4 linked regions of the Homo sapiens genome follow. The protein of the gene in region 4 interacts with the protein of the main gene of each other region in a pairwise test. Each region holds a gene or a part of one and is shown on either strand. Other genes may lie near its edges. The genes, in order: NCALD, GET3, TCF25 and GPX7.

Evidence for each region.
Region 1: the proteins of GPX7 (region 4) and NCALD interact in binary tests that used the Homo sapiens proteins (3 or more experiments, as listed by UniProt).
Region 2: the proteins of GPX7 (region 4) and GET3 interact in binary tests that used the Homo sapiens proteins (3 or more experiments, as listed by UniProt).
Region 3: the proteins of GPX7 (region 4) and TCF25 interact in binary tests that used the Homo sapiens proteins (3 or more experiments, as listed by UniProt).

Annotation. Positions count from the first base shown.
Region 1 is NC_000008.11:101,717,926-101,725,351, reverse strand, and holds part of NCALD (neurocalcin-delta), read left to right. Parts: intron 1-4,000; exon of another isoform or gene 4,001-4,139; intron 4,140-5,703; 5' UTR 5,704-5,722; coding exon 5,723-6,100; intron 6,101-7,426. UniProt on the Homo sapiens protein: May be involved in the calcium-dependent regulation of rhodopsin phosphorylation. Binds three calcium ions.
Region 2 is NC_000019.10:12,740,071-12,747,496, reverse strand, and holds part of GET3 (ATPase GET3), read right to left. Parts: intron 2,121-7,426; coding exon 1,972-2,120; intron 1,889-1,971; coding exon 1,738-1,888; intron 301-1,737; coding exon 193-300; intron 103-192; coding exon 1-102.
Region 3 is NC_000016.10:89,869,196-89,876,960, reverse strand, and holds the start of TCF25 (ribosome quality control complex subunit TCF25), read right to left. Parts: upstream 3,370-7,765; 5' UTR 3,294-3,369; coding exon 3,102-3,293; intron 1-3,101. Other genes in the region: SPIRE2 (protein spire homolog 2), read right to left, coding at 6,689-6,911, 7,279-7,394. UniProt on the Homo sapiens protein: Component of the ribosome quality control complex (RQC), a ribosome-associated complex that mediates ubiquitination and extraction of incompletely synthesized nascent chains for proteasomal degradation.
Region 4 is NC_000001.11:52,597,989-52,605,567, forward strand, and holds the start of GPX7 (glutathione peroxidase 7 precursor), read left to right. Parts: upstream 1-4,382; 5' UTR 4,383-4,421; coding exon 4,422-4,559; exon of another isoform or gene 4,560-5,577; coding exon of another isoform or gene 5,578-5,607; intron 5,608-5,631; exon of another isoform or gene 5,632-6,141; coding exon of another isoform or gene 6,142-6,150; intron 6,151-7,579. UniProt on the Homo sapiens protein: It protects esophageal epithelia from hydrogen peroxide-induced oxidative stress. It suppresses acidic bile acid-induced reactive oxygen species (ROS) and protects against oxidative DNA damage and double-strand breaks.

The sequences.
Region 1 (7,426 bases), on a different chromosome or scaffold from region 4:
GGCCAGGCTTCTCTCTGAAGTCATGCTGTCTGAAGTTAAGCCATGTCTATCCACAGTCTGTGATGCTCAGTTGCTTCTTCTCCCTTGATGTTCAGCCGCTTGTCTCTCTGCCAGCTGAGATCTGGGGTTTATATAGGCACAGGATGGGCAGCAGTGCAGGCCAAAAATGTAACATTTGGGTGGGAAAACAGGGATAACTGTTCTTATTTAGGGTCATGGTTTCCAGGCTTGAGGGTGGGGCCTTTGCCAGGGAACCACCCTCTTCTACCCAGTATTTCCCTGCCTCCTGTCCACATCACCATGAAAACAGGGGCTTTGCCTGTTTGCTCCCTGCTGAATTCCGCAGTGCCTAGGAGTGCCTCACCCCCAGTAGACACTTAGTGCCTGTTTGTGGAATAAATGAGTTCCAAAAGGAGGTTGTCTCCTTCTTCTTCACTACTTCTTTCTGACTTTTTATGGATTGTTGTCTTAATCTCTATAAATGCTTTGTCCTTGGGGCTAGTAGAGCATAGGGCTAAAACCACTGGGCAACCAAGCAGCAGCCCACACTCACAGTTAGGCTCTCTCATTCACAAGCAGTGTCACCTGGAATAAGTCACCTAGCCTCTCTGAGTTTTCATTTATTTGCTTATGAGATAGAGAAAGCCTGCCTGCCTATCACACAGGTTGTGAAAGTTTAATAGGATGTCACATGAAAGATCATCTAGGATAAGGCATCATTTTCATTTATGGCAGCGTCTGGCCCTGACTGAATGCCAGAGCTTTACATGTTTGACTGTCTCATTTAACTCTCACATGGAATCAATAAGAGATGAACTCATATCATTAAACTCATTTTACAGATGAGAAAACTGAGGAGAACCAAAATGTTAAGTGAATTACCCACCAGCTAGTAAACAATAGAGCCAGGCTTTGAAGCCAAGCATTTTTATTCTAGTGTTTTTCCAGTGTTCATCCAACAGGACATCCAGGAGGCCAACGTGTCATAGTTCCCAACAGATTATATTCTGAGTTATCTACAAACTTTTTTGAGTCACTTGAAGATTTGTCTTTACACTCTGATTATAGTTTCCACCAGCCTATGCAGACTGCCAAGTAGGTCTCATTTTTTCCTCTTAGAAATGGTAAAATATCATATAGTCACTTATAAGAAAAACTGTGATTAGAAAAAATTTTAGCATTATCCACTTTATGGTCATTCAAGAATGTTAAGTGTGAGCAGAGAACAACAGTTCCACAACTTGATTAGTTGGTAGTTTAACATGGATGTCTGAAAGTCACATATACGTAATTTCTTAGGATTCTTAAATTAGTAAATCTAGTTTACTGAAGCAGTATTAGCATTACTATTTTAGATTGCAAAAATGCCTTAATTGTGTAGAATTGGCTTATAGAGTGTTACTTAAGAAAAATGTGATTCTACCTCTATTTCTGTTGTAGCACACTTAACAACAAACAAACATGAAAAGATATATTAGCTTTCATAGAAACATTTTTGTTCTGTAAATAGGTTAATGATATGGTAAGGCCCCTAAGATAACTGAATTAACATTGTTTATATTAATGTTACTGCTGTTTATAAGATAGTATGAATTTGTGGGCTTATCTGAATTGTAGGCCATTCCCGTGATTAAAAATAAAGACAAAACTTTGAGTTACTGTTTGCGAAAACCTTATTGTGCTATGTAGAAATATTGAACTAATATTAAAATATTTGATGCTTTGGTTTCAGGGATTGGTTTAAAATTGGAGTCCTTTTTTTATTGGTTAGTCTTACAAAAGTGTAAGCCATTATATTTTTGACTATTTAAATAAAAACAAATGTTATTTTAAATATACAGAATGGATTGATAGTATAGGAGAGTGTAAGTTCTTCATAGGAACTTTAGAAAAGAAATATATGCTAATTCAGTTTTTTTAATCTTCTGCACAGTATATATACACTTGGTAATTTTGAACTCAATTTTGTGTTTTGAAAATATGTGTTCATAATTTAGGTAATTTGCTACTTAAAGCAATAAGTCTCTGATACCTGAAAAGTAAATGTAAATGGCGACGGTGAAATAATACTGCAATTAACTTAATAGAGAAAAAATTATTAAAAGACAGCCTGTCATACCTATGTTCAACTAGCACAAAATAAATGTTTTAATGACTGACTGGAGTTATGAAAACGATTTGACCCAAGGTGCAATTTTTGTCTCCAAACTGTTTTTCTCTTAACTGCCAATTACTGTAGCATTTCCCTAATGTTATCCTGCCCCATCCCTTCGACTCAAACGGGCAGAAATTCCTGTCTTCCCAAAGAAAAAGGTATTGTCAGGCTTCCCTCTGTCTTCCTCCTCACCACCTAAGGAATGAAACTCTGTCAAATGTCCCCTAAGATTTGTGTTGTACCATCTAACCAAGTCCAGATGGTGTCTCAAGTTTAGTCCTCATACTTAGTAAAGTGTTTGTAGATGAATTCTAGGCTTAATTGTGAACACTCGTTTTCCCAATAACTTATTCCATGCTTTTCTGACTTGTTTGTGTTATGGCCTTTCTGTGCTGATGAATTTGTAAATGTGGTTTAATTACTGTTTACCAAAAAATAGCTGCACACAGATCAGTCTCAGTGGGAGACTTAGCTAAAATGTTGAGGCAATTTGTTTCTAGTGCAAAAGCAGCTAATAAATTTGAAGCACTTTTTAAACACTGGGAAAGGCACTTAAGTTTGGTTGTGAAGAAACAGTGCTTTATACATTGGAGACATAAATCATTCTTTAAGAGAGTAGATTTAAATATCAGAATGGCATTTTTCCCCAAGGCCAGGCAAGCAGCAATTTGCACAAACTGTAAAAATGGTGATTTGATTGAAAACCACACCAAAGAGATATATTCTAAAGAACTCCCCAAAAGGAAAACTTGAAATTACTTGTAAATTCCATAAAATGTCTCAGAGCTCTAGAAAGCCGGGTATTATGTATTACCGGATGTTTCTGAATTCTGGCCTCAGGCAAATTGCCAACTTAGCAACTAAATGACAGCTTTACAATTCTAATACAAACCAGCCTCTGTAACTCTGTTTTTTTAATCTCCAGGGGAAAAAAAGGACACAGAGGGAAGTGAAAGATATTAGACTGTTCAATTTATAAATTCCATTTGTTCTCCATTTGAGTTGCAGTTGAATTTTGCTTTTGCATAAAATGGTGTTTGCTTGATTCTGCCTAAAGAGGGAACTCTGGGCCAAGCGTGGTGGCTCATGCCTGCAATCCCAGCAATTTGGAAGACGGCATGAGCCCAGGAGTCTGAGACCAGGCTAGGCAACAAAGTGAGACCCCCATCTCTACAAAAAATAAAAAATTTAGCCAGGCATGGTGGTACACACCTGTAATACCAGCTATTTGGGAGGCTGAGGCAGGAGGATTGCTTAAACTCAAGAGTTTGAGGCTGCAGTGGGCCATGATTGCACCAGCACATTGCAGCCTGAGTGACAGAGTCTTAAAAAAAAAAAAAAAGGCAGGGGGAACCCAAAAAGTAAGTTCCTTCCTACAGCAGTTGGCCATACTCATAGGTGAAGTGCCCCATACTCCCATCACTTTGGACACCTGCATATGAGCAGGGCAGGTTTTGCCTCCAGTGCAGAAGTCAGAAAACAAAATCAATAAACTTGGCAATGAATGAGGATTGCTGGTCATTATCTGAACCATGAGTATTATGCAAGCAGTTTGAGTAGCGTGAGATACAAACACCACCCCGTAGAAGTTTATTTTTAGTGAGGCCACCAGACAGGCCTCACTAAATTCAATATAAGAGATCCTAAGCTCAAGTCTTAACCACCAGATAGTTTTCAGTGTGTAAAATAGCGTTCTGAAAACCAAGCCCCCGTGCTTCTGGCAGTGAGCCTCCTTTTCCAAAATTATTCCATGTTTCCACTTTGTAGTTACCTTCCTATCAGTCATTTTTCTCAGTCATGCCTTCATTCATTCATTCACCAAATGCCATTTGCGGTGGGCTCTAGGAAGACGAAGCAACCCCAGTGGAGACTCTGCCTCAAGGGCCTGACTGTGTAGCAGGAGGGAGACAGAAACAAACCCCAGAATGCGTGAAATCGCAAAGAAGATTGGCAATCATTAAAATGGGGATATGCTGTCTTTCAGGTATTCTGTAATTTTTCTAAGCTTTGCTTTCAGGTTTTTTTTTTCCAATAGACGAAAAATGCAAAATACAAGTGCAGAACTTTTTTTTGAGATGGGGTTTATCTTGACCACACTTCAATCATATACCTTGGGAATTAGGAACTAATCTCGTATATCACCTCCTCCAAGAAAGCTTCCCTGAGAGCACCCATGCCCCCTTTGGGTTGGGCATTTTTCCAGGTACTTTCACCAAATCCACTCTCTATTCTGTAGCATATCTGTCATATCGTCCCCTCACTGTTACCACCATCCCCTGCACACACAGCTAGGTGCCCTTAGGGAAAAGGGGCCACATCTTATTCTGCATCCACAGAACCAGAAACACACTGGTAATTGAGAGCCAAATGTTGAGGCAGTTTGTCTCTAGTGCAAAAGCACTATAAATGAGAAGCACTTTTTATACATTGAGAAAATAACTTCAGTTTGGTTTTGAAGAAATGGTGCTTTCTATACTCAGGAAAATAAATCATTCTTTAAGGGAGTAGCTTTAAATATAAAAGTGGCATTTTCCCCCAAGGCCAATAATAATTACAGGTATTTCCCCACCTAGTAAAAGTTACCTTTATTTTCCACACCATGTTAAGTTTAAAAATAGGTAACAAAAAGGTGTGCATTCTTGTTATGGAAACATATATTAACAGCATATTTAAGTACACATACGAAAAGTCTGGAAGAACACATATCAACATGCTAGCAATTGTTATCTCTCAGGGTTAGTATTTGAAGTGATACTGCTTTTTTTCCCTATGTATCACTCTTTTACTATGTTACTATAACTATGTGCTACTGCCATGATAAGAAAATGCAAAGTTATTTGTATTTTAAAGAGAAACATTTGACCTATTTTATAAGCCAAAATCATGACATAACTTTATGAAGCATCATCTTTACTATCAAAACCCAACATTGTCAGTGATTTATTCCATGCGTTTAAATCCCTGAACTAGCATGTTGGAGTTTGGTGGTATTAGGTTTGCTTCCATTTTCTGTCTTTATGTCTGTGTTTATAATATTCAGAAGGTATCCAAGCAGCATTTTACTTGGAAATATTCTAGCAATAAAACCTGCTAAATTCTTTCCCTTGGTCTCTCTCTTCCTCCTTTCCTTTAATTTTCCCTGCTAATACTTGGATTAGCTATCAGAACCCCAGCCTTCTTAAATTTAAGCTCAACCTCTGGCAAATTGATGTCAAAATTAACTAAGCAATTAATTCTCCCTCTCTCCCTGCCCTCATTTCCCTCTACCTCACGCTCTCTCTGAACCTTTTGCTTTCAGGATGGCTCTGTATAAAAGAAGTATTCATTTTCTGGTCAGTGATAATTCTGCTGTGCATCCTCTACTGGCCTATCTTTCTATTATTTTGTTTGGCTGACCAGTGTGTTGCAAAACCTAGACAGTGTTACTGGACTCGTATAGAGTTTATTTGTTTGTTTTTTCTTCTTCCCAAAGGAACAATTACAAATTATAAAATGCAGCCCTAAAGAGCAGCTCTACAAATTATATATGTTTTCTTTTCTATCTGCAGCTGAATTCTTGCCGCCAGGATGGGGAAACAGAACAGCAAGCTGCGCCCGGAGGTCATGCAGGACTTGCTGGAAAGCACAGACTTTACAGAGCATGAGATCCAGGAATGGTATAAAGGCTTCTTGAGAGACTGCCCCAGTGGACATTTGTCAATGGAAGAGTTTAAGAAAATATATGGGAACTTTTTCCCTTATGGGGATGCTTCCAAATTTGCAGAGCATGTCTTCCGCACCTTCGATGCAAATGGAGATGGGACAATAGACTTTAGAGAATTCATCATCGCCTTGAGTGTAACTTCGAGGGGGAAGCTGGAGCAGAAGCTGAAATGGGCCTTCAGCATGTACGACCTGGACGGAAATGGCTATATCAGCAAGGCAGAGATGCTAGAGATCGTGCAGGTACGTAGACTGAGCCCTTTAAAAAAAGAAGGGCATGTATCTCAAGTAAGAATTGGAAGGTGCACAGTATAGCACGGTGCAGAGGTTGCAAACTGGTGAGTCACCAGGACACTTCATTTGGCCCACCCTGCATGTTTGAACAGTTTAAACTGCATTACAGTGTGGGGAGACTGCACATAAAAATCCACACTGGTCGGCATCTCTTGAAAAACTAGACTAGTGGGACTCCCGGGTCATAGGTGCATTTAAAAATGTTCTGATTGGCAATTGGTTGTAAGAGTTACGATCAATAAAAAGGAATGTCTAGATTATGATTAGTGGTTGTGGAGACCAAGGTTTTACCATACAGATGAAGACTCTTAAGTAGCAGGCTTCAGAGAAAATAGCTTGGAAATGTTTCTTATCAGATGTAAAATCTGTGTTGCTGTTAATGCTGGTGGGCTTTTCCTGAATTCCAAGAGGAAGGAGGGTATAATGAGGCATCTCCAACACCCCTTCCATCATGGCCTGAGCATGTTTTTCAGATTAACTTTAGAATGCCCTTGGCTGAGAGGAGTGGTTCATTCAGATGATTGGGGGAGCCTTAGAATTTTATTTTTTGGTTTACAGCACCATGTTAGCTCCTGCTCAACACTTTTGCCCAGTCGTCCTGGCTGCTGTTGGTCAATGGTTTTGTGATCAGTACTGATGAAGATGCAGACGCTGAGGCAGGGAGGAACATTTAGTCTTCGTGGGCTGATGAAATCAACACTCCCTGCTAAGAACTCAGCCCTGAACAAATAGTATAGGGTGGAAAATGGACACTGTCCCTTTTCTGTGGAATCCAGTTTGTGAAAGAGACAGAGAGAATTGCAGAGAATATGCAGAAGGTATGAATTGACCCCCACCCAGCCCCTGTTGACTTCACTCCACCACATTTGCTAAGGAATGTAAAAAGTGATCATTAAAAGGAAGGTGCTTTGGGGCAATGTCCTTTGGAAAAATAAATAAATAAATGAAATGAAATGAAATAAATAAAAGGAAGGTGCCTCAGCCTCCCAGAGGCATTTTCTTCACTGTAAAGCACCTCAGTCCATTCACAGGCCCACAGTGTTTCCAGGCTATAATTGTAAGGACACCCATTCCTTACAAAATGCTCAGACACTCATGGCTCTTAAGAAGACTGCAAAGGAAAGCTTGAATTTCTTAAACTGTTTCCTAGAGTGCTAAGTCCTGATGATTAATATTCATGATCACAGAAAGGAAATATTGTAGCATCCCGAGGTGACTTCCAAATCATCAAAGAGATTAAATTAAACTTAGAACCATTTTCATATTAAGGGCTAT
Region 2 (7,426 bases), on a different chromosome or scaffold from region 4:
GTGTGTGTCAATCTTGCACTTGGCCAGCTCCTGGATCAGCCTCTCTGTCTCATACAGGGACAGGAACTCAGCAATGCATACGCAGATGAAAGTTGTCTGCTCCTACAGGGCACGAGAGAGGACAGTGAGGGGCGGGGTCTGCCCCTGTCCTCAGCCCCCGGGCCTCTCACCGCCAGCCAGACCACCACTCACAGGGTCCTTGAACTGTTCGCTGACTGAGCGGATGACGGGCAGCGTCTCCTCCAGCTTGGAGGCCAGCTGGTCTGCGTTCATGTCCCCCAGGCCCAGCATGTTGCACATCTGCAGGGGGGATGTGGGAGGGCTCATAGCTTACCTGCGGCGACCTCCTGGGTTGGGGGTTCACTAAACACCCGAGGGATGACTCCTGATACCTCCCAGTGGTTAAAGGCTCAGGCCCATAAGCAGATTCCTGGGGTTGGTCAAATACTAGCTTTTCCATTTCTTTCTTTCTTTTTTTTTTTTTTTTGAAATGGAGTCTCACTCTGTTGCCCAGGCTGGAGTACAATGGCGTGATTTTGGCTCACTGCAACCGCCGCCTCCTGGGTTCAAGCGATTCTCCTGCCTCAGCCTCTTGAGTAGCTGGGATTACAGGCGCGCACCACCATGCCCGGCTAATTTTTGTATTTTTAGTACTGGTGGGGTTTCACCATTTTGGCCAGGCTGGTCTTGAACTCCTGACCTCAGGCAATCCACCTGCCTCGGCCTTGCGAAGTCCTAGGATTACAGGCATGAGCCACTGCGGCCGGCCTCAGCTTTGCCATTTTTAGGGAACCATAGCTAAGGGGCTTGACCCTCCTGGAGCCTCAGTTTCCCCATCTCTAAACTTTACCTCCCAGATCTGTTGTACCAGATGAGCTGAAGCATATAATGTGCTGAGAATAGTGTCTGGCACACAGTAAGTGCTCAGTGTTACCACCTGAGGCACAGGTCCCCACAGGGGACACGCACACACCCACACGTGCACATACACCATGGTGGGTGGTGCTGGTGGTGTGCAGCACTGTGGGGGCTTTAGGGTTGTCATCGTAATAATAACCCATGGGGGCTGGGCACAGTGGCTCATGCCTGTAATCCCAGCACTCTGGGAGGTCGAAGTGGGTGTACTGCTTGAGGCCAGGAGTTCAAGACCAGCCTGGGCAACATGGCAAAACCCTATCTCTACAAAAAGTACAAAAATTAGCTGGGCATGGTGGTACATGTCTGTAGTCCCAGCTACTTGGGAGGTAGAGGCACGAGAATCACTTGAACCCACGAGGTGGAGGTTGCAATGAGCCAAGATCGCACCACTGCACTCCAGCCTGGGTGACAGAGCGAGACTCCGTCTCGAATAATAATAATAATAACCCATGGGGCACTCTCATGATCTCCATTTGCAAGACAAGGAAGGTGAGGCCCAGAGAGGTGAAGTGATTTGCTTGAGGTCACACAGCAGTTGGGTCACATGGTGAGTGTAGAGGGTTTGAAGGCAGGTTGCCTGGTTCTGGAATGTGCTTTCTGGCTCTGTCTAGGGTATTTAGCGGGCAGGGGCAGGGACACTGAGTCCTGCCTGTGGGGGAGGAAAGACAGCTCCGTCCCATCCCCTCCAGGGAGAAGTCCAGAGTGAGAAGGGGTGGGAAGGAAAGGGAATTGTTAGTGCGCATTTGAGGGTCTGGGGGCCCGGGCCTACTCCCACTCCCGGCTGCCTGGATGGTGCAGGTGGGGGCCCCCGCCGCCTGCCTGTGAGATGAAAGGGCTGATCTGGTTCTTGATCTGCATAAGCCGGCCCAGGCCCCGCTCCACGATGGTGGGGAAGTTGAGCAGCCTCAGGGTGTGGCCCGTGGGTGCCGTGTCAAATACCACCACCGAGAAGTTCATGCCCTTCACCAGCCTGAGGGGAGACAGGGGTCAGGCCCTCTGTGTCCGCTCTTCCCCTTCCCCAGGCAGCCCCCACCCCTGCTGGCTGGGCCTGACCTCATGACCTCGGCATAGCTCATGGCCTCATCGATGCCGGGAAATGCGCTCATGGCCTCCTGCATCATCTTCTTGCCCATGCTCAGCATGTTGTCCTCCTCGAAGAACTCGTCAGGCAGCTCCGCCACGCCCAGGCTGGGGTCAATCTCCTGGGGGCCAAAGGGATGAGACTGAGGTTGCTGCTACTGCTGGGGGAGCCTTCCCACCTGGGCACAGGGCCAGGGGGAGCCTTCCTACCCGGGCACAGGGCCAGAGGGAGCCTGTGGTGGGCTGTGACCACAGGCATTTCATTAGGTCACGGCTGGGGGGACCCTGAGGTAGTACTTAGGGTTTTGTATGGTTGCATAAAGGGTCAAAAACAAGGGGAAAATTGCAAGCTGTGCCCAGGGCCCTCAAAGGGAAGCTGAAACCCACTGCGGGCCATTTACACTGCTACTCCCCACTTGCAACCTGCCACTTGCAACCCCAGATACTCCCATGACTGGGCCATGACCTCTTCCGGATCATCATCCCTCCACTGAGAGACTCCCTGACCACCCTAAGTAACAGCACAGATCCACCGACACCCCTGCCCTGCCTTCCTTTCTCCTTAAGGTTTAGCCCTTAGGAGCTGGGCAGGATAGCTCACGCCTGTAGTCCCAGGTACTCAGGAGAATGAGATGGGAGGATCGCTTGAGCCCAGGAGTTGGACACCAGCCTGGGCAATATAGCAAGACCTATCTGAAAAAAAAATTAGCCCTTCCTCACATCCCTCATGATTCCCTTATCATGTTTATCATCTGTCTCCATAGCAGGAATGTCTGCCCCTCAGGGGCAGGGGTTTTACCATCTAGTTCACTGCTGTGTCCTTAGCGCTTAGCATGAACAGTGCCTGGCACAGAGGTCGTCAGCACATATGGGGAATCCAGCCAGGCGCGGTACCTCATGCCTGTAATTCCAGCCCTTTGGGAAGCGGAGGCGGGCAGATCACCTGAGGTCGGGAGCTTGAGGCCAGCCTGGCCAACATGGTGAAACCCCGTCTCTACTAAAAATACAAAAATTAGCCATGCATAGTGGCGGGTGCCTATAATCCCAGCTACTCTGGAGGTTGAGGCAGGGGAATCGCTTGAACCCGGGAGGCAGAGGTTACAGTGAGCCGAGATCACGCCATTACACTCCAGCCTGGGTGACAGAGGGAGACTCTGTCTCAAAAAACAAACAACAAAACAAAACACAAACATGTATGTAGAATCTATGAAGGGATGGCCATGGCTGGGGTCCCTGGCCAGTCTCAGACTCAATGCCTCCCTCTTTTTTTTTTTTTTTTCCCGAGATGGAGTTTTGATCTTGTTGCCTAGGCTGGAGTGCAGTGGCGCGATCTCAGCTCATCACAACCTCCACCTTCTGGGTTCAAGCAATTCTCCTGCCTCAGCCTCCCGAGTAGCTGAGACTATAGGCATGCCCCACCATGCCTGGCTAATTTTTTTTTTTTTTTTTTTTTTTGAGATGGAGTCTTGGCCGGGCGTGGTGGCTCACGCCTGTAATCCCAGCACTTTGGGAGGCCGAGGCAGGCAGATCACCTGAGGTTAGGAGATCGAGACCATCCTGGCTAACACGGTGAAACCCCGTCTCTACTAAAAATACAAAAAATTAGCCGGGCGAGGTGGCGGGTGCCTGTAGTCCCAGCTACTTGGGAGGCTGAGGCAGGAGAATGGCATGAACCCCAGGGGGCGGAGCCTGCAGTGAGCTGAGATCACGCCACTGCACTCCAGCCTGGGCGACAGAGCGAGACTCCATCTCAAAAAAAAAAAAAAAAAAAAAAAAGAGATGGAGTCTCGCTCTGTCACCCAGGCTGGAGTGCAGTGAGTAGCTGGGACTACAGGCGCCCGCCACCACACCTGGCTAATTTTTTGTATTTTTAGTAGAGACGGGGTTTCACTGTGTTAGCCAGGATGGTGGCGATCTCCTGACCTCGTGATCCACCCACCTCGGCCTCCCAAAGTGCTGGGATTACAGGCACGAGCCATCACGCCTGGCCATGCCTGGCTAATTTTTGTAATTTTTTTTTTTTCTGAGATGGAGTTTCACTCTTGTTGTCTAGGCTGGACAATGGCGTGATCTTGGCTCACTGCAACCTCCGCCTCCAGGGTTCAAGTGATTCTCCTGCCTCAGCTTCCTGAGTAGCTGGGATTACAGGCATGCGCCACCACCCCAGCTAATTTTGTATTTTTAGTAGAGACGGGGCTTCTCTATGTTGGTCAGGCTGGTTTTCAACTCCCAACCTCAGGTGATCCACCCACCTCAGCCTCCCAAAATGCTGGGATTACAGGTATGAGCCACCATGCCCGGCCAATGCCTCCCTCTTTATCTTCCTCCTCTGTCACCTCTTCTTGGTAACTTCATGGGTCCCATGGGGAAGTACCCAACTCGCTGGCCTTAGGGGTCATTCCCTGTTGGGGAGCTTGCCCACTCATCACTGCACCCTCTTCTTATGCTTCATATATTTTAAGCTTCTTTGGACTACTTCATCCCCTCACCTGGCCCCTGTAAACTGTCAGTGTTCCTCTTGGCTGGCACCCTTATCCAGCCCAGCCTCCACAGGTTCCCTCTGCAAACACTCCCTTTCCCCTTGCTGTTGGCAAAATCCCCCACTCTGGTTACTTCCAGCTTTTTTTTTCTTTCTTTTAGAGATAGCGTCTTGGCCGGGCGCGGTAGCTCACACTTGTAATCCCAGTGTATTAGGAAGCCAAGCCAGGCAGATCATTTGAGGTCAGGAGATTGAAAACAGCCTGGCCAACATGTTGAAACCCCGTCTCTACTAAAAAAAAATACAGGCCAGGCGCGGTGGCTCACGCCTGTAATCCCAGCACTTTGGGAGGCCAAGGCGGGTGGATCACGAGGTCAGGAGATCGAGACCATCCTGGTTAACATGGTGAAACCCCGTCTCTACTAAAAATACTAAAAATTAGCCGGGCATGGTGGCATGCACCTGGAGTCCCAGCTACTCGGGAGGCTGAGGCAGGAGAATCACTTGAAATCGGGAGGAAGAGGTTGCAGTGAACCGAGATTGCGCCACTGCACTCCATCCTGGGCGACAGAATAAGACTCCGTCTCAAAACAAACAAAAAAAACCCCCCCAAAACAAAAATTAGCCGGATGTGGTGGCGGGCGCCTGTAATCACAGCTACTTGGGAGGCTGAGGCAGGAGAATCGCTTAAACTCAGGAGGTAGAGGTTGCAGTGAGCTGAGATCACACCACTGCACTCCAGCCTGGGTGACAGAGTGAAACTCAGTCTCAAAAAAAAAAAAAAAAAAGATACCATCTCATACATAGCTCATTGCAGCCTCAAACTCTTAGGCTCAAATGATCCTCCTGCCTCAACCTACCAACTTACTGGGACTATAGGCACACACCACCATGCCCAGCTAATTTTGTTTGTTTTTTGTAGAGAAAGGGTCTCCCTTTGTTGCCCAGGCTGGTCTTGAACTCCTGACCTCACGTGATCCTCTTGTCTCAGTCTCTGCAAGCACTGAAATGATAGGTATGGCTTTCTAGCTCTTTAGTATCACTGCACTTGAGGGCCGAACACTCCTGAAGAGTATTCCCATCTTGCTCCTCACCCTTTTGGAGACGGAGTCTCGCTCTGTCATCCAGGTTGGAGTACAGTGGCACAATCTCGACTCACTGTGACCTCCGCCTCCCAGGTTCAAGCAATTCTTTGCCTCAGCCTCCCGAGTATCTGGGATTACAGGCGCCCACCACCAGGCCCAACTAATTTTTTTTTTTTGAGATGGAGTGTCGCTCTGTATCCCAGGCTGGAGTGCAGTGGCATGATCTCGGCTCACTGCAACCTCCGTCTCCCAGGTTCAAGCAATTCTCCTGCCTCAGCCTCCCGTGTAACTGGGACTACAGGTGCCGGCCACCACGCAAGGCTAATTTTTGTATTTTTAGTAGAGACGGGGTTTCACCATATTGGTCAGGCTGGTCTCGAACTCCCGACCTCAGGTGATCTGCCCGCCTCAGCCTCCCAAAGTGCTGGGATTACAGGCGTGAGCCACCGTGCCTGGCTTATTTTTGTATTTTTTTTTTTGAGATGGAGTCTTGCTCTGTCACCCACGCTGGAGTGCAGTGGCGCGATCTAGGCTCACTGTAAGCTCCACCTCCCGCGTTCACGCCATTCTCCTGCCTCAGCCTCCCGAATAACTGGGATTAAAGGCACCCGCCATCACGCCCGGCTAACTTTTTGTATTTTTAGTAGAGATGGGGTTTCACCCTGTTAGCCAGGCTGGTCTCAATCTCCTGACTTTGTGATCCGCCCACCTCGGCCTCCCAGAGTGCTGGGATTACAGGCGTGAGCCACCATGCCCAGCTAATTTTTGTATTTTTAGTAGAGATGGAGTTCCACCATCTTGGCTAGGCTGGTCTTTAACTCCTGACCTTCTGATCCACCTGCCTCAGCCTCCCGAAGTGCTGGGATTACAGGCATGAGCCACCACGCCCGCCCTTGCTCCCCTCTTCTGAACACAAATCTCCAATGGGCACTTGATGATCCAGACAATTCTGGTTCCCCCTGCTACCTTAATAAGTGTTTATGTGGTATTTTCTCCCTCCTCAAACTTCTATCCCATTCACTGCTGAGACCCTTGCCTGTTCCTTGGTGAGAAAGAGAAGCCATTGGCTGCCAACACCCTCATCTCTGCCCGGGAAGTGCCCCAATTCCTCCTGTTTCCCTCCCAGTCCCTGACCCTGGCAGCGCCCAAGTTCTGGGTCTGTATGCTGGATGGAGCTCATCCCACCTGAGGACTGTCCTCTGCCAGCATCCTCACTCTGCAGCATCTCTTTATTTTATTTTATTTTTATTTATTATTTTTTGTTGAGTCTCGCTCCGTTGTTCAGGCTGTAAAGCAGTGGCGCGATCTCGGCTCACTGCAAGGTCCACTTCCCGCGTTCACGCCATTCTCCTGCCTCAGCCTCCGGAGTAGCTGGGACTACAGGTGCCCGCCACCATACCTGGCTAATTTTTTTGTATTTTTAGTAGAGATGAGGTTTCACCGTGTTAGCCAAGATGGTCTCAGTCTCTTGACCTTGTGATCTGCCCGCCTCAGCCTCCCAAAGTGCTGAGATTACAGATGTGAGCCACCGTGCCCGGCCTTTATTATTTTTTTGAGACAGAGTGTTGCTCTGTCGCCCAGGCTGGAGTGCAGTGGCGCGATCTCAGCTCACTGCAAGCTCCGCCTCCGGGGTTCACGCCACTCTCCTGCCTCAGCCTCCTGAGCAGCTGGGACTAAAGGCGCCTGCCACCATGCCCAGCTATTTTTTGTATTTTTAGTAGAGATGGGCTTTCACCGTGTTAGCCAGGAGGGTCTTGATCTCCTGACCTTGTGATCCACCCGCCTCGGTCTCCCACAGTGCTGGGATGACAGGAGTGAGCCACTGCGCCCAGCCAATTTTTTTTTTTTTTGAGACGTGAGAAAA
Region 3 (7,765 bases), on a different chromosome or scaffold from region 4:
CTGGCCAATTTTTTTTTTTTTTTTTTTTTTTTTAGATGGAGTCTCGCTCTGTTGCCCAGGCTGGAGTGCAGTGGCACGATCTCAGCTCACTGCAAGCTCCGCCTCCTGGGTTCACGCCATTCTCCTGCCTCAGCCTCCTGAGTAGCTGGGACTATAGGCTCCCGCCGCCACACCCGGCTAATTTTTTTGTACTTCTTTAGTAGAGGCGGGGTTTCACCGTGTTAGCCAGGATGGTCTGGATCTCCTGACCTCATGATCCGCCCACGTCGGCCTCCCAAAGTGCTGGGAATACAGGCATGTGCCACCACGCCTGGCCCAATTTTTGTATTCTTAGTAGAGATGGGGTTTCACCATGTTGGCCAGGCTGCTCTCGAACTCCTGACCTCAGGTGATCTGCCCACCTCCCAAAGTACTGGGAGCTGCAATTCCAGCACTTTGGGAGGCCAAGGCGGAAGGATCTCTTGAGCCCAGGAGTTTAAGACCAACCTAGGCAACATAAAGAGATCTTGTCTCTAAATAAATAAAATTTTTTAAAAAGAGAAACACCATGTCTCTCACCAATGCATTCACATTCATAACCATTTAGTCGTAACTGGCTGTTTACTGTCTCCCATACTTCTGTTTATTAAGAGCTATTTAACAGAATGCCAATAAACATTTTGATTATATTATTTCCAAATATGAGTTTTAAGAGCAAAAAAGTATGGAATGCTTAAATTAAGACTGATGTGTGCCACTGGATAAAATTCTCTGAAATTCCTAAGAACACAGCACGATAAGCAGTCATTCATCCATGGAGGCTGTTAGTGTTACTGACACTCAAACTCACTCCAGAAAGTCCACAAGGGTTTGTGTGGTTTCTGACCTTACAGACTCTTACTCTGTCAACTCATGAACCACACTTTTTCCAAATTCCCACCAACACAAATATAAATACCAAAAAGATTAAATATTTAAATGGGAAAAAAAAAGCATTAAAAGAACAAGCTGAGCATGGTAGGGTATGCTGTAGTCCCAGCTGCTCAGGAGGCTGAGGCAGGAGGATAACCTGAACCCAGGAGTTCAAGACCAGCAACCAGCCTGGGCAACACCGTGAGACCCTGTCTGTAACCAAAAAAAAAAAAAAAAAAAAAAAAAAAAGCCAGGCGCAGTGGCTCACGCCTGTAATCCCAGCACTTTGGGAGGCCGAGGCAGGCGGATCACGAGGTCAGGAGATCGAGACCATCCTGGCTAACATGGTGAAACCCCATCTCTACTAAAAATACAAAAAATTAGCCAGGCGTGGTGGCGGGCGCCTGTGTTCCCAGCTACTTGGGAGGCTGAGGCAGGAGAATGGCGTGAACCCAGGAGGCGGAGCTTGCAGTGAGCCGAGATCATGCCACTGCACTCCAGCCTGGGCGACAGAGCGAGACTCCATCTCAAAAAAAAAAAAAAAAAAAAAAAAAAACTCACGTCAGGGAATATCTATGTGAAGACACTCTAGAGAGATGGATGTGTAACAATGAGAAAAGTGGCTCCAGTATCTTTCAGCACGCAGAAATTAAAGAAGTTAAAGAACAAACACAAACCGAGAAAATACGTTAGAGACAATCGATAGCAAGCTTCCACGAGCAAAAAGACTGTCCAAACCCCCTATAAAAAGGCAAAGATATAAACAGGTTGTCACAAAGAGAAATATAAATGGTCAACGAATACATAGCTAGGTGCTGCATTTCACTACCAAAGAAGTGTAAAATAAAATAATGTGATATCATTTTTCACAAATTACATTGACAAAAATTTAAAAAGACTTACGGGGCCAAGCACAGTGGCTCATGCCTCTAATGCCAACACTCTGAGAGGCCAAGGTGAGAGGACTATTTGAGCCCAGGAGTTCAAGGTTGCAGTGAGCTAGGATTGTGCCAATGCACTCCAGCCTGGGCAACAGAGCAAGATTCCATCTCAAAACAAAAAGCTTTCAGTAACTGCTGTGAATCTAGCAAATTACTGAACCTTGACGGGGGTCTTGGGGACCACTAAAGGTGGACTTGATGCGAGAAGGGCAGTCAACCAAGCATGGTGACTCACGCCTGTAGTCCCAGCACTTTGTGAGGCTGAGGTGGACAGATTGTTTGAGCGCAGAAGTTCTAGACCAGCCTGGGCAACAAGGCGAAAACTCTTCTCTACAAAAAAGAAAAAAAAAAAAAATTAGCCGGGCGTGGTGACATCCACCTGTAGTCCTAGATACTCAGGAGGCTGAGGTGGGAGGATCGCAGAGCCCGCAGAGGCAGAGTTACAGACGGAGGCCAGGGCTTAGGAGAAAACGTCACAGGACCGCATGAGCAAACCATACAGTCAAACTGTTACTTCCCTGTGCCAGAAACGAGCTGCCGGAGATGCAGCAAAGAGTAAGACTAATCCGCTGGGTTAGGCTGATGGGGATGCGCGAAGAGCAAGGCCCTGGGTTAGGCAGAGTTGTTGTGAGGATTAAAGCAGAATGCTCGCAGAGGCCTGGCAAGTCCTCAACCCTGGAACCGAGAGAAGGCCCCTCTAGACTCGAGAAAGGGAAGCCCCACCCGACTCCTGCCCCTACGCCGTGGCCCCACCCCCACGGTGGCCCCAGGCCTCATTTAACCCCGCCCACGCCATCGCCTCGCCACCCCCCCGTCTTTAGCCACGCCCTTTAGCGTCACGGCCCCACGACAGCCACGTGGCCGCAGGCCCATTTAATCCCGCCCACGTCGTGGCCCGGCCCCGCGGACGTTGGCCACGCCCTTGGCATCAAGGCCCCGCACCCTCCACAACCCGGACCCCGCTTAACCCCGCCCATTCGGTCGCCCCGCCCCGACAGCACGGCCCCGCCCCATCCCTTAGCCCCGCCCACCTCACCGGGGTTAGAACCCAGTCTAACTCCGCGGCCCGCCGTCTTCACCCCACGCCACCGCCCACCCGCGTCGCCCTGGCCCCGACGCACGGCCCCGCCCTCCCCACTGCGGCTGGGACCCACGTCACCCTTCCCACCCCTGGCATCACAACCCCGCTCCCCGACCCGGCTGGACGCTCGCCCCGCCCCACAACGTCAAGGGCCACCCCACCCCCACCCGGGCCGCCGCGCTCCTCACCAGCTCGAAGCGGTTGTTGACTCGGACGCCCTCCTTCCCTGCGCCCCCGGGACGCCGGACACCAAGCTCCCGCTTGGGCCCTTCTTCTTCCGCGTCATCGTCATCACGGAGATCGAAATGCAAGGCGCCGGGCCCGAGGGGCTCCTGGCCGCGCTGTTCCCCCCTCAGCCTCCGGAGGGCCCGGCGCGACATAGGACCGAACGACCACGACGTCTGGAGAGAGGGAGAAGGAAGCGCAGAAAACTCGGCTGTCGGCGCGCCTGCGCACTCTTCGCGCGGGGTCGGGGGCGGGGGAGCTGGCTGCGCGCCTGCGCACTCTTGGCGCGAGGGGTGGGGGCAGGACCTGGCTGCGGCGCCTGCGCGTCGCGGCTCTCCGGAACTTTCCCGCTTCAGCGGCGGCGTCTGGGCGGGCTCCGGGGGGTCCGGGCCAGGTCTCTGGAGAGCTGGGTGTCTGCGCGCCGTGCGCACCGGGCATGGAGAGGTGCCCCGCGGGGATGACGGGCTTCGATTCGGGGTAACGGGCGCGCAGCCGGCGACAGTCGGCCCTGCCCGGCCTTGCCCATCCATGTGGCCCGGAACCCGCAGCCGCGTTCTGCCCGCCGGGGCCTGTCCCCGCACCGTGCCTGCAGCATTTCAGCTGCGTCCCGGACGTTGCTAGTTGGTCCTTTTCGTGTCAGGGTGTCATTCGAGTGATCTAGCCGTCGATGCCCGCCTCTGCCCTGGAGCCGCCGCCCCTCGAGCAGCATTGAGTGACGCGGCCCTTACTGCCCGCCCGAGGCCTCTTTAGGGACAGTGGTTCTGACAGTTCTAGGACAGGCCGCCCGCGTTTGTCACGATCTAAGGGCCGGGCGCGGTGCTCACGCTTGTAATCCCAGCACTTTGGGAGGCCAAGGTGGGCGAATCACCTGAGGTCGGGAATTCGAGACCAGGTTGGGCAACACGGTGAAACTCCCTCTACTAAAAATACAAAAATTAGCTGGGCGTGGCTGCGCACGCCTGTAATCCCAGCTACTCGGGAGGCTGAGGCTGCAGTGAGCCGAGATCGCGCCACTGCACTCCAGCCTGGGCGACAGAGCCAGACCCTGTCTCAAAAAAATGAAAAAAATAAAGTAGATGAGGCTGAGACAGTGCTGGGTTCAGTGGGCGGAGGGCACAGCTTCCTGTGCCTGGGGTTGGGGACATGGGGACAGGAGGGCATAGAGAAGACAGGTGCCAGCAGCCTCCTGCCCGACTTACTGCGGCTTCATGAGCACAAGCAGCAGCCCTGGTGAGCCGGCCTGGCCCCTCCCAGGATGGGTTAGGGTTTTATTTTATTTTGTGAGATGAGGTCTTGCTCTGTTGCCCAGGCTGGAGTGCAGTGGCGCAATCTCGGCTCACTGCAACCTCCATCTCCCAGGCTCAAGCACTTCTCCTGTCTCAGCCTCCCGAGTAGCTGGGACTACAGGCATGTGCCACCATGCCCGGCTAATTTTTGTACTCAGTAGAGATGGGGTTTCACCATGTTGGCCAGGCTGGTCTCGAACTCCTGACCTCAAGTGATCTGCCCACCTCACCCTCCAAAAGTGCTGGGATTACAGGTGTGAGCCACTGCACCTGCCGTGGTTTAGGGTTTTAACGTGGGCTTTCATTTCCAAGTGTTCCTGTATGAATTACAACCCAGTCTCCCCATGATAGGGAGTGTGAGTCCCCGTAGAACCAGAACAACCGTCGTCCTTACCAAGCACTACACATTAGCTTATTGCTGGCTGTGTGACCGGAGGAGTTCCCTGACCCTCTCTGTGCCTGTTTTCTTATTTTTAAACAGGAATAAAAATACAGGCCAGAGAGTCCGTGAAATGCTTACACGCATGCTAGAAGCTGGCTGTTTTTACTGGGGGCTCTAATTTTGTGTGTTTGGATTTCCTGGACCCCAGCTGACAGGAGTATTTTCTCCCGCAGGCCCATCAGTTACAAGTCCTGTCCCTTCTGACCTCCAGGCCCCACGGCTAGCATTACAGCCTGGAGTCAAAGTTCTGGGTGAGCTGTGTATCTTTGGCCAAATTCTTTGACCTCGTTGAGCCTCAGTTCCCTCATCTGTAAGGTAAGATGACGGCAGAACGTCACGGAGGAGCAGGGCAGGGCCCCGTTAACAGGCTGAGCCGGGCGCAGGTGAGCAGACAGCACTCGGCACAGGGCCTGTCTAGAGCCTGCAGTCACACCTCCTGCCCCTGTGGATCCTCTCCCTGGAGAACGAGAATACGGATCTGGGAAATGAGACCAAAGTACCCCCCAGGCCAGCAGGTGTGGCCAGAGGAGCTGATGGGCAGTAGTCTGTGCCGTCCGCATGCAGCCCTGACCATGGTGGCCAGGACCACGAAGCTGGTAGAGGCAGCCAGGGCTGCGTGGACAGAGCAGGCCTGGAGCCCTTGCCTGGTGGGCACCTGACTCTAAGCCAGGAGGCCTTTCCTCGTCCTGGAAGGCAGGTGGCCCCTCAAGCCCAGCTTCAACCTTGGGAGAACATGCCATGCTGGGTGAATCCTCAGCGCACATCCCAGACAGAAGACTGTGAGACCTCCTTTATTAGGCCAAGAGTGGCCATGTGCACAGATTTACAGAGCTGCTCCTCCCTGTGCCAGGACCGCCCAGCATCTTCAGGAGCCTCTGGGCCAGGGGCGAGTGAGGACAGCACCAGAATGTGGTAGGGCCAGGAGAGGCAGGACACATGTGGTTTGGACCCCAGGGAAAGGGAAAGGGCAAGGGCAGGGAGCAGCTTGGCACGGACCTTTTTTTTTTTCGAGACAGAGTCTCGCTCTGTCGCCCAGGCTGGAGTGCAGTGGTGCAATCTCGGCTCACTGCAACCTACACCTCCCGGGTTCAAGCGATTCTCCTGCCTCAGCCTCCCCTGTAGCTGGGATTACAGGTTCCTGCCACTATACCTGGCTAATTTTTGCATTTTCAGTAGAGACAACATTTCATCATGTTGGCCAGGCTGGTCTCAAACTCCTGACCTCAGGTGATCCTCCCTCCTCGGCCTCCCAAAGTGCTGGAATTACAGGCCTGAACCACCACGCCTGGCCAGACCTTTCAAACAGGTGGGGGTGCCTCCCAGGAGGACCCTGCCTACTCAGAGACTTCCCAGATGCCTCTGCTGCCTGAGTCCCCACAAAGGGAGAGCAGAGGCAAGCAGGGCACTCTGGTCCAGCTGGGAGCCAAGATACCCTGTCCCCACCTAGACGTCCACTGGGGAAGGGAAACTGCCGTTCGCATTCCTGGGGACGGAGAAGAGCATGGGAACATGGGATGCAGTCTGTGCCAGGATCTAGAACCTTCTGCTTTCTCTCTTCAGTGAGAAAACCCACCCTGTTCCCTCCCCTTCCTCCCTGGCAAGGAATCCTGAGAAGAAACAGCCTCCCCCAGGGAGGGTTTTGAAGTGCGCCTGAACCCAAATGAGCTCTGGGGCCAGGAAACAGTGTATATAAATATATAGACTGTGTGTATATATTATAAATGTATCTATATATGTATATATGTACATGCACAGCTCAGAGCGTCCTAGCCTGATACAGGGCCTGCCTGGTGCCTCCTGGAGGCCTGGCCACCTGGGGCTGTCACTTGAAGTCAAGAGTCCTGGTGTTAGGGATGTAGAGGGATTGGGTCTGGCGACTGCGTCGTGGCGTAGTGTTGAGGACGTCCACGCTCTTGCGGCTGGAACGCACCACGTCTGCCACAAAGCTGGTGCACTCACTGCAGACATCCTTCAGGACACAGCCGTGGGAGTAGATGTGGGGGAACGCCTCCTCCACGCTCTGCCACTGTGGCCCTTGCAGAGACCTGGGAAGTGGGAGAGGGCACTCAGGGAGAGGAGCCAGCCAGGGTGCCACACCCCCCTCCCTGCTTGTGCATGCCACAGCCCCCTCCTGGCTGCCTTTCACCCTAGGCCTCCCCTTGGCCCTCAGGCAACAAACACAGCTAGCAGTGTTCATCTCAGCAGACTGTTCCCTGACCACCCAAGTCCAGTTTCCATCTCATACTGCTCAGCCTCCCAGAGCCCTACACAACGATCCGTCTCTGCCTTGCATTTCCATTTCCTTGGGGTGTCCTAGCAAACAGACAAAGCCAGCCCCCTCCACCCCAGCTCCCAAGTTCCTCTTCACGCCCGACCACCACAGTGACATCAGCAGCAAGGCGAAGAACGCACTGAAAGATGTCTCTTCTCTGGATTGGCGCGGTTTTGGCAGCTGATACCCTCTGAGGACTCTCAAAGCCCAGTGTGTAGACAGGGATGTGTCCAAATTTCTTAGAAGGCATCTTCATCTGCAGCACAGAGGGAGGAGGTATGAACCAGGCACCACCAGAGACATTCAGGTACACTCAGTGCTAGGGGACCTCCCTCCCCAGTCTGGGACCTGCGTGGCAGCCAGGGCTTCCTGGAGAATATTCTCTGTCCCTGTGCTCTCCGATGTCTCCTCTGTGCCTTTTGGCTGAAGACTGGCACGGGGTTCCTGCTTGCTGCACATCTGGACAGGGGCTTCTTAGAGCGCAAGAACCGTCCCTTTTTATACCATGCGGGACCTGCCACGTTTCCTGCTCATCTGGACAGGGGCTCCTTAGAGGGCAAGAACTTTCCCTTTTTATACTATACGGGACCTGCCACCTTACCCTGCACATAATCAACATTTAACATG
Region 4 (7,579 bases):
GATTAAAACCCTTAAGTGGCCTCCCATCCCATTCAGAATCAAAGCCACACTCTTCACAATGGCTTGTAAGATGCTACAGTAGCTGTGTACCCATCCCTTACCTCTCTGATGTCATCTTCTGTTACTCTTCCCCTTGCTCACTCTGCTCCAGCCACACTAGACTCTTTGCTGTTCAGCAAACACATCGTGCCTGCTCCTGCCTCCAGGCCCTTGTACTTGCTGCTTCCTCTACCGAGACTGCTCTTCTACTTTCCTCTCTGACATTCTTTAGGTCTTTGCCCAAATACCATTTTCTCAGTGAGGCTTCCTGATCATTCAAATTAAAGTTACAATCCCTCCTTACTCTATACCATACTACTCTACCCTCTCCCCCGCTTAATGCCATGTAAAGTACTACATGTTGGCCGGTTGCGGTGGCTCACGTCTGTAATCCCAGCAGTTTGGGAGGCCGAGGCAGAAGGATCACTTGAGGCCAGGAGTTTGAGACCAGCCTAGCCAATATGATGAAACCCCGTCTCTACTAAAAATACCAAAAGAATTTAGCTGTGCGTGGTGGTGGCCGCCTGTAATCCCAGGTACTCAGAAGGCGGAGGCACAGAATCACTTGAACCCGGGAGGCAGAGGTTGCAGTGAGCTGAGATTGTGCCACTGCACTCCAGCCTGAGCGACAGAGTGAGATGCCGTCTCAAAAAAAAAAAAGTAAAGTACTGTAGGTTTTGTATGACTAGTTTTAGTTTTTATTCTTTCTCTCTCCCAACAGGCAAGGAAGAAGAAAGAAGCTCCCCCTGTACAGAGACAGAGGGAGGGGGTGATCCAAAGCCGAGAGAGGAAACCGCGAGTACAGCAGAAACCAGCCAGTTACATGAGGAGGCTGGAATAGGCGGTGTCTGATTTGCATAGGGCTCAGGGGATTGGTTTGACTAATTCATTCCTTTTTATGGCTGAGTAGTATTCCATCGTATGGAGTATGCCACAGTTTCTTTATCCACTCGTTGATTGACGGGTATTTCAGTTGGTTCCACATTTTTGCAATTACAAATTGTGTTGCTATAAACATGCATGACCAAGTATCTTTTTCACATATGAGCTGGGTTTTGAAGCATAAATAGGAAAGGAGAAAAGTGCCCAGGAAAGAAAGTTACAGCTGAGAAATATTTAACTATTAACTTTTTTCCCCCTGTTTAGTAGAAATGCCCATCTATCTGGATTTTTTTTTTTTTTTTTGAGACGGAGTTTCACTCTTGTTGCCCAGGCTGGACTGCAATGGCATGATCTTGGCTCACCGCAACCGCCGCCTCCTGGGTTCAAGTGATTCTCCTGCCTCAGCCTCCTGAGTAGCTGGAATTACAGGCATGCACCACCACGCTCGGCTAATTTTGTATAAACATGTGAGCCACCTCGCCCGGCTCATCTATCTGGATTTTAACAGGAAATAGCTTGGCCAAACTTGCAACACTCCAAGTTATATGAAGTAGAATTTGAGAACTCCTGGTTACTGGGACACTCAAGAAGGGGCTGAGTGAAAGGGACAGGTGGCAGGAAGAGAGCCCAATGGTTCCAGAAGGCAGAGAGAGAAGAGACCATTTAATAGCTGTGGGACCCATCACAGGCTTAAGGCTCCCAAAAGAGATGGGGAAGAAGGAGCAGGATGGGCAGGGGCACCTTATGTATGCCTTGGCCCTTGCCTGGAGCGCCGTTTCCTCTGCTCTCCACCTCTCCTGATAATATTGCCTTCTCCTGAAGAGTGAGGCCACCTTGGTGGTGCAGAAAAATCCCATGGTCTACACCTGAAGGCCTGGGTTCGAGTCCTAGTAACTATATGATCTTGTGGCCAGCTTCAAAACCTTTGCTTGCCACACTCTAGAGAGTGACTTGGCACTCAAGGCCCTTCTCTATCCTGATGACCCTTCCAATCTCATCTGCCCCACACCCCTTCTCACCTCAAACAGCCAAGCACTTCTCTGACTCTGTGCTGTCATAGATACTGCTCTTTCAGTCTGACGTTGTTGCCCTGACCCTCCTAGAGAATTCCCATTCCTCTTTCAAGATATAACTCCAGTATCACCTCACACCTCCAGAAGGCCTTGCCTGGCTGCTCAGGCTAGGTAGCAACTGCCTCTGGGTCTCTAGGAGGTAGCCCTGGAGCTACGTCAACTCCAACATCTAGACCACATCTGCTCTTGCCCTTTCCTATCAACTCCACAGAACAGCCAGAAGGATTTTTTTTTTGAGATAGTGTCTGTGTCACCCAGGTTGGAGTGCAGTGGTATGATCATAGCTCACTGCAACCTTGAACTCCTGGGCTCAAGCAATCCTCCTGCCTCAGCCTCCTAAATAGCTAGAACCACAGGCACATGCTACCACACGAGGCTAATTTTTAATTTTTATTTTTTTAGATGGAGTCTCGCTCTATCACCCAGGCTGGAGTACAGTGGCACAATCTCTGCTCACTGCAACCTCTGCCTCCCGGGTTCAAGTGATTCTCCTGCCTCAGCCTCCCAAGTAGCTGGGACTACAGGCGTGTGCCACCACACCTGGCTAATTTTTTGTATTTTTAGTAGAGATGGGGTTTCACTGCATTAACCAGGATGGTCTCGTTCTCCTGACCTTGCGATCTGCCTGCCTAGGCCTCCCAAAGTGCTGGGATTACAGGCGTAAGCCATCGCGCCTGGCCTAATTTTTTAATTTTTTGAAGAGACAGTTCTTGCTAGGTTGCCCAGGCTGGTCTTGAACGCCTGGCCTCAAGCAATCCTCCAGTCTTGGCTTCCCAAAGTATTGGGATTACAGGTGTGAGCCACCGGGCCCTGTCGAAAGAGATCTTTCTACAACAAAAGACTCATTGTGATACCTCCCTGCTAAAAAGAACCTTCATTTCTTGGTTTAAAGACCACAGTCCCTACTGTGGCCTACTAGGCTCTGTGTGATCTCACTCCCTCCTGCCTCTCCACCTTTCCCTCTCATCCTTTGTCCTCTCTGTTCCAACCAAATGAGGCTTCTTTGTTACTCAATGCACCATGTTCCTTTCCCCCCAGGACCTTTGCACTTGTATGTTGCTTCATCCTGACCAATTTCTCCTCATTCTTCAGAGCTCAGCTCAAATCTCCCTTTTTCTGGAAAGCCCTCCATGGCCCTCCAGGCTAGTTTAGGTGGTACTCACCACAACAGTAATTTTAGAGCTATTTATAAATTATTTAATTCCTGTGTCTCCCTGGATAGAGATAATGCCCTCCTGTTCATCCCTGCCTAAGAATCACCTAAAGCAAAACTTGGCATAGAAAAGGTGCTCAGGAAGTTTTTGTTGATGACCACAGGAGTGCTTAGCCCTTACCACATTACATAAAATCTGCAGTTTACCTGGTTTCTCTCACACCAGTCTGTGAGTTTCCAGAAAAAACTCACAGCCTGTGAGTACAGGATCCAGCTCCATGTTTGACATTTCATGGGCTCAACAGGGGTTTTCTGAGCAGGGGGAGACATTGTGATGTGCTGCCCAGATCCCCCATCACTGAGGACTTAGGACAGACACCAGCTGCTAGGAGTGCTGTTAGCACAAAGCCTTTAATGTCAGCTTCTCCACAGACAGGGCCATCTTGGCCCTTGTTGCCCCACTTGCCAGGTGGCCCCACATCCAAGGACTGATAAAGGCAGGATGACCTGGCCATCTTAGCTCATCTGATGGGCTACTCTAGCTCTAGAGTCCCTGTCGAGTCAGCTAAAACTGTCTTGGGGCCTGCATGGAGCTCACTACTTTCCCCCTGTGCCACTCCTGTTCCCTCCCATCCTTCCCACGCCTGTTGATCCCAAGGGTGCTCCCTCATAAACATCCTGCACTCCAATCTCCATCTCAGAATCTGCTTCCAGGAACCTAACCTGCAACAGGCCCACGGTCCTCTCTTCTTCTCCCAGCCATCACTTTCAGGGAACATGCATTCATTCACCTGAAGTTTGCAGGCACCATTCAACTGTTAAAGTGTTTCGCATCCGTTTTTCTATTACTTCCATCCTATACCGACTAGCTCCACTTAACATGTGGAGAAACTGAGGTCGGAGTGGGGGCGTGACCAGGCCAGCCTAAGGCCGCTGCACTAATGAGAAGCTGAGCTCTCAGATTTTTGCCTCCCTGTCCCTGCCAAGTCGCTGTTTCCTGGGACAAGAGGGAGCCTCACTGAAACGAACTCCGGTCTCAGGGGACAGAATCCTGAAACCCTGGCTCTGGGGTCCGGGGCAGGGGTGCGCTGCCTCAGGACAGACGGTGAAACTGAGGTCCAGAGCCGGACATCCACCGCCTGCGGAGGGAACGAGAACGCGGCGCGTCCTGCCTTGCGGGCCGAGCGGCGCCAGAGCCGCCTCCTCCCGCCCCCCGCGCTAGATCCCCCCGCCCCGTCTTTGCCCTCGCGACGCCGCCACCTCCGGAACAAGCCATGGTGGCGGCGACGGTGGCAGCGGCGTGGCTGCTCCTGTGGGCTGCGGCCTGCGCGCAGCAGGAGCAGGACTTCTACGACTTCAAGGCGGTCAACATCCGGGGCAAACTGGTGTCGCTGGAGAAGTACCGCGGATCGGTGAGTGCGCGGGGTCTGGCGGCGCCGCTGGGCCCGGCCTCGCCCTGGCGGGGCCTGCTGGGGACGCCCCGCAGCCCGGTCCCCCGCGCGGTGTGGCTCCGAGGACGCTCCAGCCGCGCGGCCGCCAAACCCCGGCCCCCGCCCCGCTCGGCCGTGACCTCTGGCGCGGCGCCCCCATCCCGCGCCCGGCCCGGCCCGGCCCGCGGCTACGTGGCACGGCCTTGGCGCGGAGGAACCCGAAGCGCTCGCAGTCGGCGCCCACTTCGCTACCGGCACCTTTGGGCAGCGGGGTCCAGACCTTCGCCGGGAGGCCGGGCACCACTGCCCAGCCTTTGCCATTCACGGGTGAAAAAAGTAACCGTAGCATCGTGCGGCCTTTCCCTCTCCCGTCCTCATTTTCTGCATCTGGAACGGGGAGTGGCTGATTCGGAGTCCAGTGAAGAACACTGTGGAGATCAATGTGCAGGGCAGAGAGAGAGTTATTTCAGATGCACGGAGACCTCACACGGATCATCCCTGGGAGAGGGCACAAAGGCCCAGAGAGGGCAGGCATTCGCACAAGGTCACACTACACTAGAAAGACGGGGCCTGGAAGAGAACCCCACCGCCACATCCGGGGTCCTCTCTAGGCCAAGTCCTTAGATGGCAGCTCAGGGGCACACATAAGAGTCATCCAGGCTAATTGCCCCCTCATTACCAAGAGGGAATCTAAGCTCAGAGAAGACTTCGGAGAGGAAGGGTATCTGGGTTGAGTCTTTGAATACGAGTGGATTTTAGCAAGACTAAGAAGCAAACAGCAAGAAGGGGGTGGGGGGGCGCGGGGCCAGGAGTTCCAGCTGTTGTGCTTCAAAGAGTCTAAAGCTGGAGGCTACGAGTGGTGGAAGATGAGGCTGAAACGACTGGCAAGGGAGCAGGCGGGACCTTGAACACTACATTGAGAGGCCTGCATGTCACATTATGTGCAGTGAAGAACTCCCAGAGTGGACCTCTTCAGGATGGACCTGGGGACTGGTGTGAAATGGCTGGGGAGTTGAAATCTAATGAACAGGTGGGCCAGCGTCCAGTTTTGGATGAACCACACAAAAATAGATGTCAACATTTTTCTCCTGGGAGCAACACCATCTTTAGTGAAGACCAGTACTCTATAAGCCTTGAAATTTTCGATTATGCTGGGAGTCTTGGGGACAGTAATCCCTGCTTGATTGTCCCCCAGAGTGTCGTGAGTTTCAAATCAGATGAAGGCGTGGATGCACTTAGTAAACTGTAGAGTGCTTTGCACCTGTGTTTGGTGGATCCCAGCAGGAACTTCATTTAGAACTCTGGGCAAAGAACCAAGAACAGGGCCCGCTCCAATTCAGGCCTCCTGTTCTCTCTAGGGCAGCTCACCAGAGAGCCCCAGGTTTAGCGTCTGACCAGCTCTGCTACTTATTAATTCGTTGTTCATTATTGAACACCTACTGTATACTAACTAGATACTAGGTCAGGCCCTGGGGATACAGTGGTGAACAAAACAGATACATTTCCACTAAATGGAGCTTACATGGGGTAAGGAGAAGAAAGACAATAAACAAGGAACTGAGAAATGCACGAGGTAATTCCTAGTAGTAGTAAGTGCTAAGACAAAAATAGAACAAGGTCACACAGCTAGTAAGACAGTAAGAATTTGAACCCAGACAGTCCAGCTCCAGAGTCTATGCTCTTAGTTGCCAAGTTCAGCAGTAAACCAGGGAACAGGGAGTCCAGAAAAGCTGTAATTGGTGCTGAGTTAACCCAGGCTAGGCTTGCTGCTTGGGCAATATGCTCATTCCTTCACCTGCAAACATTTACTGGCTCCTACTACATGTCTGACACTGGGTCCAGCTCTGATGACATAGTCATGAGCAAGATTGACATGGTTGATGCCCTCAGGCTAATTGGGACCATAGTCATTTAGACCAGTATGGATGAATGGGTGACCACTTGGGAATGTGTGGGGTTATGTGTAGTGTGTGCCTTTGTGAATGGTTTACTTCTTCTGTGTACAAATCTGAGTCTGTGTCTGTGCTTGTATATGTACATATGTAAATTAACTGTGTGTACTTGGGTGTGTCTGTCTGTGTTTTGGTTTCTAAGGACCAAGCTTTTTGGTTTCAGGGATGGAACTAGAAGCCAGATTTTCCCCCTTCCAAAAGAGCGGGCAGACATGCAAGTTGTGAGTTAAAAATAAGCAAGCTTTGGCCGGACGCAGTGGCTCACGCCTGTAATCCCAGCACTTCAGGAGGCTGAGGCGGGTGGATCACAAGGTGAGGAGTTCGAGGCTAGCCTGGCCAACATGGTGAAACTCCGTCTGTACTTAAAAAATACAAAAATTAGCTGGGCATGGTGGCGTGTGCCTGTAATCCCAGCTACTCAGGAGGCTGAGGCAGGAGAATTGCTTGAACCCGGGAGGTGGAGGTTGCAGTGAGCCAAGATCGCGCCACTGCACTCCAGCCTTGGTAACAGAGCAAGACTCTGTCTTTAAAAAAAAAAAAAAAAAAAAAAAAGCTTTAATGTTCTCATTGCCCAGGGATCCAGCAGGGGGAAAAAAAGGAAGAACCCTAACTGAGGAAGGGAGTTAACAGTCCCAGTTTCTCACCATTCCAGGCACAGTATGGTGTATGCTGACCTCAAATTGAGGAGGTTGTTCTAATAGCCAGTGGCCCCAGGCATGGGTCCTTTCTCACCTGGTGGAGGTAGGGTACAGGAGGTACAGCTCAGTGGTTCAATCATCTAGCCCAGTAGTTCTCAACTAGGAGTGATTATTCCCTTTAGGGCACAATTGGCAATGTCTGGAGACATTGTTGATTGTCAAGACTGGGCATCTAGTGGGTAGAGGCCAGGGATGCTGCCAAACATCTGATAATAAATAAACAGGACATCCCCCCGACAACAAAGAATTATCTGACCCAAATGTCAATTATGGAGGATAGGGCTAGGCTGCCTAGGCACCGGCTAGGGTTTTAAATCCATTAATAATATATACCTAGAAGCTAAAAACATAG